Linked DNA regions of Homo sapiens. The protein of the gene in region 1 purifies or fractionates together with the protein of each later gene. This does not show direct contact. Each region holds a gene or a part of one and is shown on either strand. Other genes may lie near its edges.

Region 1 (4,609 bases):
CTAAACACAATGGCCAGTTCTCATTTCTCACCTCACTGGCCCTGCCAGCAGCATTGGCCTGGTGGATCCCTCTCTACTTCCTGAGGGCTTGATTGGGCTCCCTGGGCACCAGTTTTTCCTCATACCTCACTGGATGCTTCCTTCTCTGCCTTTCCTGGTTCTTCCTCTGCTTCCTGAGCACTTCACATTGGAGAACCCCCAAAGTACAGTCATTGGACCTATCTTTTCTATCTAGATTCATTTTCTTGATGATCCCAGCCAATCTTATAACTTTCGATACTTTCTATCTGCTGACAAATTCCAAATTTTATATCCTCTAACCAGACTCATAGGTCCAACTGCCTACTCACCATCTCGCTTTGGATGTCTAACAGACATCTCAAATGTAACATTCCAAAACTGAGCCTCTGATCTTCCCCTTCCCCCAAAATCTGCTCCTCTCACAGTCTCTCCATTTCAGTAAATGACAACCCTATCCAACTAGTTACTCACACCAAAAACTCTGGTGTCATCCTTCACTCCTCTCCTTTTCTCACACCCACATTCAATCTGTCAGCAAATCTACTTTTACTATACCTTCAAAATATACTCAGAATCTGAATCCTCCTGACAACCACTCTGCTAACCACCCTGTGCAAGTTACTATCTCTTAAGTGTCTCTCTTTTCTCATCAATAACTGGGGGCAATAATAGCCTATGACTTACAGGGTTCTTGTGTGGAATAAAAGATAAGACATGTAAAGAACTTAGCATAGTGCCGAACAAATTGTTAGTGCTTGGCCAGTCATGGTGGCTCACACCTGTCATCCAAGCACTTTGGGAGGCTGAGGAGGGAGGATTGCTTGAGGCCAGGAGACCAGCCTAGGCAACATGGTGAGATCTTGTCTCTACTAAAATTCAAAAAAATTAGCCAGGTGTGATGGTGCGTGCCTGTAGTCCCAGCTACCTGGGGTACTGAGGCTGGTGGATTACTTGAGCCCTGAAGGTCAAGGCTGCAGTGAGCCATGATCATGCCACTGCACTCCAGCCTGGGTGACAGAGTGAGACCCTGTCTGCACCCTCCCCCCTCCAAAAAAAAAGTTGTTAGTGCTTAATAAATTTTAGCTTTCATTATTATTTGTGGCGTCAGTTTTCTAGGAGGTTTCAAGAAGACGTGGCTAGTAAAGTTGAAGCTATCAGTTCCTTTTCATAAGAACTGAGTTTTTTCTTCAACACATGAAATTTTCATTTTAAAGGTTTTACCTAAATGAGCTAAAGAGAAAGAAGTCCAAACTAATCTCACCCAGTAAAACTGTCACAGATAAGATCCAAATAAAGGGTTAAAAAGCACAATAGCAATTTGAATCATTGGAATTCTTCTCTATAAAAGTAATTTTCAGCTAACCTAGAAAATATTTTAAATCTAAAGTTATATAAGATTGTCACATATCATACTGCATAGCTGTCTACAGCCCTAGCTTCACAACCTGAAATAATTTGGGGATATGAGGAAACTCATAGGATGTTTCTACAACAGCAACTGAGATAACAGCCATCATTTGTATAAAACAGCCTTGTTTTATAAACCTAAAGTCCCAGCTAATTAGTAATAGGTAGAAAGATTCTGGAAAATCCTCAGTGTTATCTGAGATGTCAGCAATATACAATAGGCCTGAACTATATAGGAAATATCTTGGGTAAGTGACCTAATGCATAAATTAGATGTGTGGATATCACTAATAAGATAAACCATTGCACTAAATAAGAAGAAAAATATTTCAGAGCATTCAACTTGTCCTTTAATGCAATCACTTTGTTAATATATGTGGTAAGAAACAGTATTTGAATAGATAAAAGTAGATGAGCATTTTTTCTTAATATTTTTCAAAAATTATGTTTCTTCTTTATTCTTTAAGTATGGATCTCTTTCATTATATATATGTCTGTGTGTGTGTGTGTGTGTGTGTGTGTGTGTAGAGATATATGTATCTCTCTATATACACATAAATACATGAAACATCTACCACGTGCTGAGTAATGAGGAAACAATAGTGAATTGTTTTTATTACTAAGCTCCTTATAAAAATATTTTGATCGTTTTGAGTATAAGAGCCAGGTAACAGTGGCCTTGGAGTGTTTTAAGTTGGCGGGTGGGGGAGATAACCCTAATATAAAATCATCAGGAATTGACTGTGCTTAATTTATTAGATTTTCTTCATCTGTATTTAATTATACATTATACTCTGTGGTATTCTTAGAGTGATATATACAATGTAAACAAATTTAAATATCACATATATGCAAAAATTACTTAGTAAAGGTAAACTCCCATTAATACCTACTGTGGGCTCATTTTAGCTGATCCATGTATACTTTGTATGCTAATTTTATTTATTTATCTGTTTTTTTATAGGAAGTCCTGGCTGAGCAAGGTTGGAAGCCCTAGTTCTCGCATTGACCGCACAAACTTTTCTAATGAAAAAACCATCTCTAAGCTTGAATACTCTAATTTTAGTATTAGATACTAATAGAAGAGAAAAATTGTAACACACTGAACAATAGATACTGTATGTTCTTAAGACTATGTATACTAGAATAATAGTAGCAGAGTAGGGTGAAAAGGAACTTTCTGTTCTGAAAGCTAAGCGACTGTACGTGCTACTAAAAATGTCTGACACTGAAATAATTTTACTCAACTATGTTTTCAACAAGCAAAAATATAGTATTCTAAGATTAAAATGTCATTACAAAATATTTAGTGTGAACATTTAATTTAAACTTGTCTCATGGAATCTTTAATTTCAATGAACATTACAGCATATATATGTTATTTGGCGAGACATCAAATAAAGTTAACCATTTAAAAATTATTTTCATATACTGTTGTCTATGTTGAATTATAAAATCCTCTGAATAATTTGTTACTACGGTTATTTGTTATTAAACTCTTCAAAAAGAACCAGTGATTAGAAATAAATGTGATGATCAATATAACCATAAAATATTATCAACAAAGAGTTTTAAAATTCTGGTTAATGTGAACATTATTTGGTTGGAGCTACTTTAATGCCTTCTATATTGTTGTGTGCAGTGAACATTCAGGCTGAATGATGGTGGCTAACAAGAACTCGCAATTTCAGTATAGCAAGCAGCAAGATTTTCAACCACCACCCACAATAGATGTCCTATTAACCAGAAAAGAAACCGAGAGTCTAAATGAATCCATACAATACTGTCCCCTAAACTTGGCCTATCTCTTGGGAAGCTTCACATGTAACTGATAAAGCAATGGAGAATTTAAAGGGGAAGGTTTTTTCTATAGCATAAAATGATAATGTTAAAAAAGGAAGACCTTTAATGAAAAACACTGGGGAATTTCAAGTGTTGTAGGCATATACTTGCACATATTCCATGATTTTCAAACTTTTTATATCAATGGAATCCTTCCTTAAACCAAAATTTTATATAGAATTGAATACGTAAGTTTTTAAAAAAAGCAAAAACAAAGCACAGCTGGTGAAAATAAAGTGGAGATGGGCGTCCCCAGAGCCTTGCATACTTGGTGTCCCTTTCTCTACTTGGACAGTTTCAAATACCTTGCTAGTACACTTTGAAAACTACTATTCTATCTAAGGAACAAATCTCTATTGCTATCCTCCATGGCCTGGAGAACGAATGCAGGCCTCTTTCTCTTCTACCTATGCAAGATAAGAAATGAGGAGAGATGAAGGGGGCGGGGGTGAGTTTGTTCATTGGAAAGGTTAACTCCTTGATGATAATATTGTTATCAAATGTATATAAAACAACACAACATTAGGGAATGACTTTCCAAATAAAGGACTAAAGAACTTTCCTATTATTCTAATACCATCATCATGTTAAGTATTACATGTTTCAAATGTCACGCAGGAGAAGCTATTGAGATGTTCTTTTGGATTTTGCTCTCCTTCTGTTTCCCCACTCCTGATTCAAGAAAGGTTGACAAGTCTTTGTGTTCCCTTATTTCAGGGGAAGCTTTGGGTGCCAGATCCCCCTGAAGACAACCTTTCTTCCAAAATTTCATTTTAAAGAGGGCATTATCCTGTGAGTTGAGGAGAAAGACAAATGCTGGGCTTTTAGGGGGTAAAAGAGAAGCAGAAGTTGTGAGAGCCAAAGAAGACAAGGAGATTATCCAAGACTTTGGAAAGGAACCAAAGGCTGTGGATTACCCAAGTCATGGAGACCTGCACCTTTCTCCCCAGTGGCACCTCTACCTATAGCTAAACCTGAAAGGGAAGCAGCTGTAGTTCCCAGAGAAGCTAGATCCCAGGCCCAGGGGCTTCCAGCATTAGCAGGATTCCTGTCCCCAAAAATGCTTCAAAGCATCCTACAAACACCAGGGTGGTTACAAGGGACCATGGTGGTTTGAACAGTGATCATAGCAATTGGTATGCGCTGGACACCGAGAGGTATTTCCTTAATGTTTTCTCTGCATATAACCCTTTGCATGCTGCTTCTGAGAGAGGGAACAAAGCACCAGGGATGACTAAGATATCCACCTCCAGACAGGATGAGGCTTGAAGCAGGCTCGCTTTGATTTGGAGAAAATAAAATAGACATTTTTTTCACCCACAAGTTTGAAAACAAAACC
Region 2 (4,508 bases), on another chromosome or scaffold:
ATGTGTAAACAATGATTCCCTTCTCCTCTGGCGACTTCAGGACACAGAGAAACAGTATCTGCTGTAAGCAAAAGCACTTGGGTAGAAGGCACGTGGAAGCTGTCAAGCTCTACAGGAGCACGCAGAACATGTGGGATGTCCACTTCTCTTCCCATGTAGCATCCCTGCTGTTGGGACAGGTCTGGAATCAGATGAAAGGTGGTGATGGTCTTGTCACGGTCTCAGCCTCATTCCACAGTTACAGACTTGGCCAGATTTCTGGGGAAGTCAACCTAAAATGAAAGAAAGTGACTGTTCAGGACCCCAAAGATCTCAGCAACATGCTACCTCTCACAGACAATTTTCAGAGTACTTAAAAACAAGAGACAGATGTTCACCATGGTCACCAACCTAGAGACCTGCGTCTTGGAGGCAGATTCCTTAGTCCAGAAGCCTCATTTAACCGTATAAGGTTTAGTCCCTCAATAAACATTTACTGTGCACCTGATGTGTGTCATGATCTGTTAACATGATTTAAAGAATAAGGTTCATGCTTTTAAACACAGGTAACTTGGTGTGTACTGTTAAAAATTAACTTTTCTTGCAAGAATATATATGAATTCCATGGGACTTATTTGTTTAGGGTGGAGTGGGAAGGAAAGGTAGGAATGGTTCATAAGTACGCTTCTACTGGGCCGGGTGCGGTGGCTCACACCTGTAATCCCAGCACTTTGGGAGGCTGAGGCAGGTGGATCACGAGGTCAGATCAAGGTCATCCTGGCTAACACGGTGAAACCCCGTCTCTACAAAAAATACAAAAAATTAGCCAGGCATGGTGGCGGGTGCTTGTAGTCCCAGCTACTCGGGAGGCTGAGGCAGGAGAATCGCTTGAACCCAGGAGGTGGAGCTTGCAGTGAGCCGAGGTTGTGCCACTGCCCTCCAGCCTGGGCGACAGAGCGAGACTCAATCTCAAAAAAAAAAAAAAGAAAGCTACTTTAAATAAAATTATTTACTCTATGACTATTTACTCCAAGTATTTAAAGAACAGAAAGGAACTCTGGGGTTATGTCTCTCCTCTCTGCTGTTAGGTGCAGTTTTTAGACGCACGTCATATCCTCGGAGAACAGCCAGGTGGAAGGACAGCAGCTGCAGCGGAATCACGCTCAGGATGCCCTGGAGGCAGTCCACAGTGTGGGGCAGCTCAATTGTCTTATACGCAAACTTGGAACTTTCAGTATCGTCCTTGGAGCACAGTATAATGGGGCGACCCTAGAGCAGAGAAATAGCATCATAAAATAGACCCTCTCTGAAAGAAGCTATCCCTGATGCATACAGAGTATCTGGAAGCTACATTACTGTGATGAGAACAGTCCTCTTTTGCATTTGCTGGAGTCATGGGTGAGGTGGTATGTGTGGGACACAAATGCTTGGAAAGGATAAAGTGTCTGATGCTTTTTGGGGGTTTCTTCCCCTTCCCTGGTAAGGAGATTGCCATCCTGCTGCATCATTTGGCACCCATTTGTGCCTTGCCGAGAGCGGGGCAGACTCACTCCTAACTCTAGCGGGGCTCATAGTCTAGTGGTAGAAAACAAAAACCTAGACAAGCAAACCAAGAAATAAAGATGAATTCCAGGCCGGGCGTGGTGGCTCACGCCTGTAATCCCAACACTTTGGGAGGCTGAGGCGGGTGGATCACGAGGTCAGGAGATCGAGACCATCCTGGCTAACATGGTGAAACCCTGTCTCTACTAAAAAATACAAAAAATTAGCCGGGTGTGGTGGCGGGGGCCTGTAGTCCCAGCTACTGGGGAGGCTGAGGCAGGAGAATGGCGTGAACCTGGGAGGCGGAGCTTGCAGTGAGCCGAGATGGCGCCACTGCACTCCAGCCTGGGCGACAGAGCCAGACTCCGTCACAAAAAAAAAAAAAAAATGAATTCCAAAGAAATGCCACCAAGGCTAGAAAACAGGATAATGTCATTGGGAGACTGGTGAGGTCTCCAAAGCTCTCTCAAAAACAGGAGACATCTGGACTGAACCCTAAATGATGAGGGGACAACCCTCGGCGGAGCATTCTGTGGGAAGGGCATTCCAGACAGCAGGAGCGGCCAGCGCAAAGGCCCGGAGGCGGGCGCGGGCGCAATGAGAGTGGGACGCAGAAGGAAAGCTGGAGTGCCTGGAACTCACTGAAACAGGAGGAAAGGGCCAGATAACGCAGGACTGTGGGTCTCTGTGGCTTGACAGGCAGGTATGGGAGGGTTTTAAGTGGGGAAATGATGCCATTGTGTTTTATACCCTCACTCTGACCTCTGTGCTGAGCCAGGTGGCAACATCTGGATGGGGCACCTCATTGGATTTCACCTCCCCGAAACTTCATGAACTCTGCCCTCCTACCTCAGGGCAGCTGCTGTGTACAAAGCATTTGGTTGGTCTTTGTGGCCGGTTCCAGGAAGGGAGCTCCTGGCTTCTGGACTTTCCCATGTGACAAAAGCATCTTTGTTATTTATGGGAGGTCCCTTGGACTATACCTAACTTTATGCTAAGGTGACGACTCGTGGTGGGCCTGTAGATAGTTCCAGGATGGCGTCTGGCCCTGCTAGAAAGGCCAGCCACATGATTAGAAGGTTGGGGCTTTGAGACATGAGCCTGTCAGTCTGACCTCCCAACCTCCAAGGACAAAAGTGGGGCTGGCGACTGAGTTTGATCACATGGCCAATGGTTCACTCCATCCTGCCTACTTAATAAAACCACAATACAAACTCTGGACACTGGAGCTAGCAGCTCAGGGGAGCTCCCGGGCGACACACAGTGACGTGCTGGGAGGGTGACACATCCTGAGGACACAAGCTTCACATCTGGGGCCCTCAAACTAGGGGTCTCTTCTTTTGGGTTGGCTGTGATTTATATCTTTTATAATAAAACTGTAATCATATAGTCATCTCCTGAGTTCTATGGGTCGTTCTAGAAAATTACTGAACTTCAGGGGAGAGTGGGAATCCTTGGATTCATAGTCAGTTGCTCAGATGTGTGGGTGGACCCCTGGCTTGCAACAGGTGCCTGAATCGAGGGCAGTCTTATGGAAAGCTGTGCCCCTGCCCTATGAGACCTGACCTAACTCCAGGTAGTTCCCATCGGAGCTGCTTGGCCGCAGAACCTGGGGAAACCCTGCCCCAGGGATGTCCACCAGGAGTACCTCCCCTGAGCTCCAGGCTAGGATCTGGTGCTGCTCACAGCAGTGTGGGTCCCTGGGCCCCACCAAAGAGCTGTGTGGGACAGCTGCGGGCTGACCAGCTCCTTTCCAAGTGTGTGCACTCCCCACAGGCGGCCCGGGGGAGGGTGTGTGGTCACAGCCACTCACTGGCCAGACCATCCATCACTGGTACTGGCAGACAGTGGTGAGGTGGGCATGCATGGGGAAAAGCAGGAGAGAGCTGGCCCAGTCCAGTGGAGAGCCCTCACCTGGCGGGCCGTGACTTGCTGCAGGGCGTTCTGGCATTTGGCGAAGCAAGGATCCTTCATAATGACCATGATGACGGGCATCTGCTTGTCAATCAGTGCCAGGGGCCCGTGCTTCAGCTCCCCAGCCAGGATGCCTTCTGAGTGCATGTAGGTTATCTCTTTAATTTTCTGGAAACAGGAGGTGAGATCAGAGTCACACTGGGCAGATGGGGCTGGAGCAGATCAGCCAGAGGGGAAGAAGGGGAACCAGGGGAAGGATGACTCTGGAAGGCAGAGAGCCAAGGGTTGCAAGGCAGACAGATGCCTGGAGTGCTTGACAGCACTGAGGACACCCAGCAAGGGCCTGGGGAGAGGCCTGGCTACCATCCAGAGCATGCACCAGCCCGGGACACAACCTCTGTGTCCCCACACCAGCCCCGGGCACTGCTGTTGTCTCTCTCCAGTCCCACGCACAGCCACCCCTTAGGACAAACAAGTCGGAGTCAGCCTAGCTCACCCCCTGCTCCTCCCTAGCCAGCCACGTGTATAACGACAGCATCGTATTCAGCTTAGCTACACCTTCAGTTAATTATCTGATTAAGCATTTGCCCATTAATAACTTCTAAAGAGTGGTTCCAAGCAAAATCACACAAACTGGGGTGTTATTTGAATTAATTTTTTTCCTGTGTTCAGGTAGATCCATCTCTATTCAGTTACCACAAATCCACGTCATTGAAATGGTGAGACAGTCAAATAAATCATCTCTCGACTCCCCGCTAGCACTGCTGATTTAGGTCAGGGCCACACTGTAAGGAGTGCGGCTCCAGTCTGGAGGCGCAGACAGCTGCAGTGCCGGCCTCCCAGTGACCAGAGGACCATGGGCTCGTGCCAGCAGCCACCTAAACGCTTCTTCCTTCAGCAGACTCATGCGGAGGCATAGCTGCAATGTGCATCTCCCGCCAGCACGTTCAGCCACCGCAGCTCAGCCCCCACCCATGACGCAGAGTCATCTGGGGACTGACAGTGCACCCCAGGCCTTGCCTCTACTGCACTCCAAGAAGCAGCACCTGCCTGTTCTTTAACAGGAGTCAGAA

Evidence for each region. Proteins that work in one complex are often made in the same cells at the same time.
Region 2: the proteins of ACYP2 (region 1) and GFPT2 purify together in Homo sapiens (affinity purification with mass spectrometry; one large-scale study listed by BioGRID and IntAct). This does not show direct contact.

The regions. Positions count from the first base shown.
Region 1 is NC_000002.12:54,302,296-54,306,904, forward strand, and holds the end of ACYP2 (acylphosphatase-2), read left to right. Parts: intron 1-2,392; coding exon 2,393-2,507; 3' UTR 2,508-3,005; downstream 3,006-4,609. UniProt on the Homo sapiens protein: Its physiological role is not yet clear.
Region 2 is NC_000005.10:180,301,337-180,305,844, forward strand, and holds part of GFPT2 (glutamine--fructose-6-phosphate aminotransferase [isomerizing] 2), read right to left. Parts: intron 3,604-4,508; coding exon 3,436-3,603; intron 1,249-3,435; coding exon 1,087-1,248; intron 273-1,086; coding exon 228-272; 3' UTR 1-227. UniProt on the Homo sapiens protein: Controls the flux of glucose into the hexosamine pathway. Most likely involved in regulating the availability of precursors for N- and O-linked glycosylation of proteins.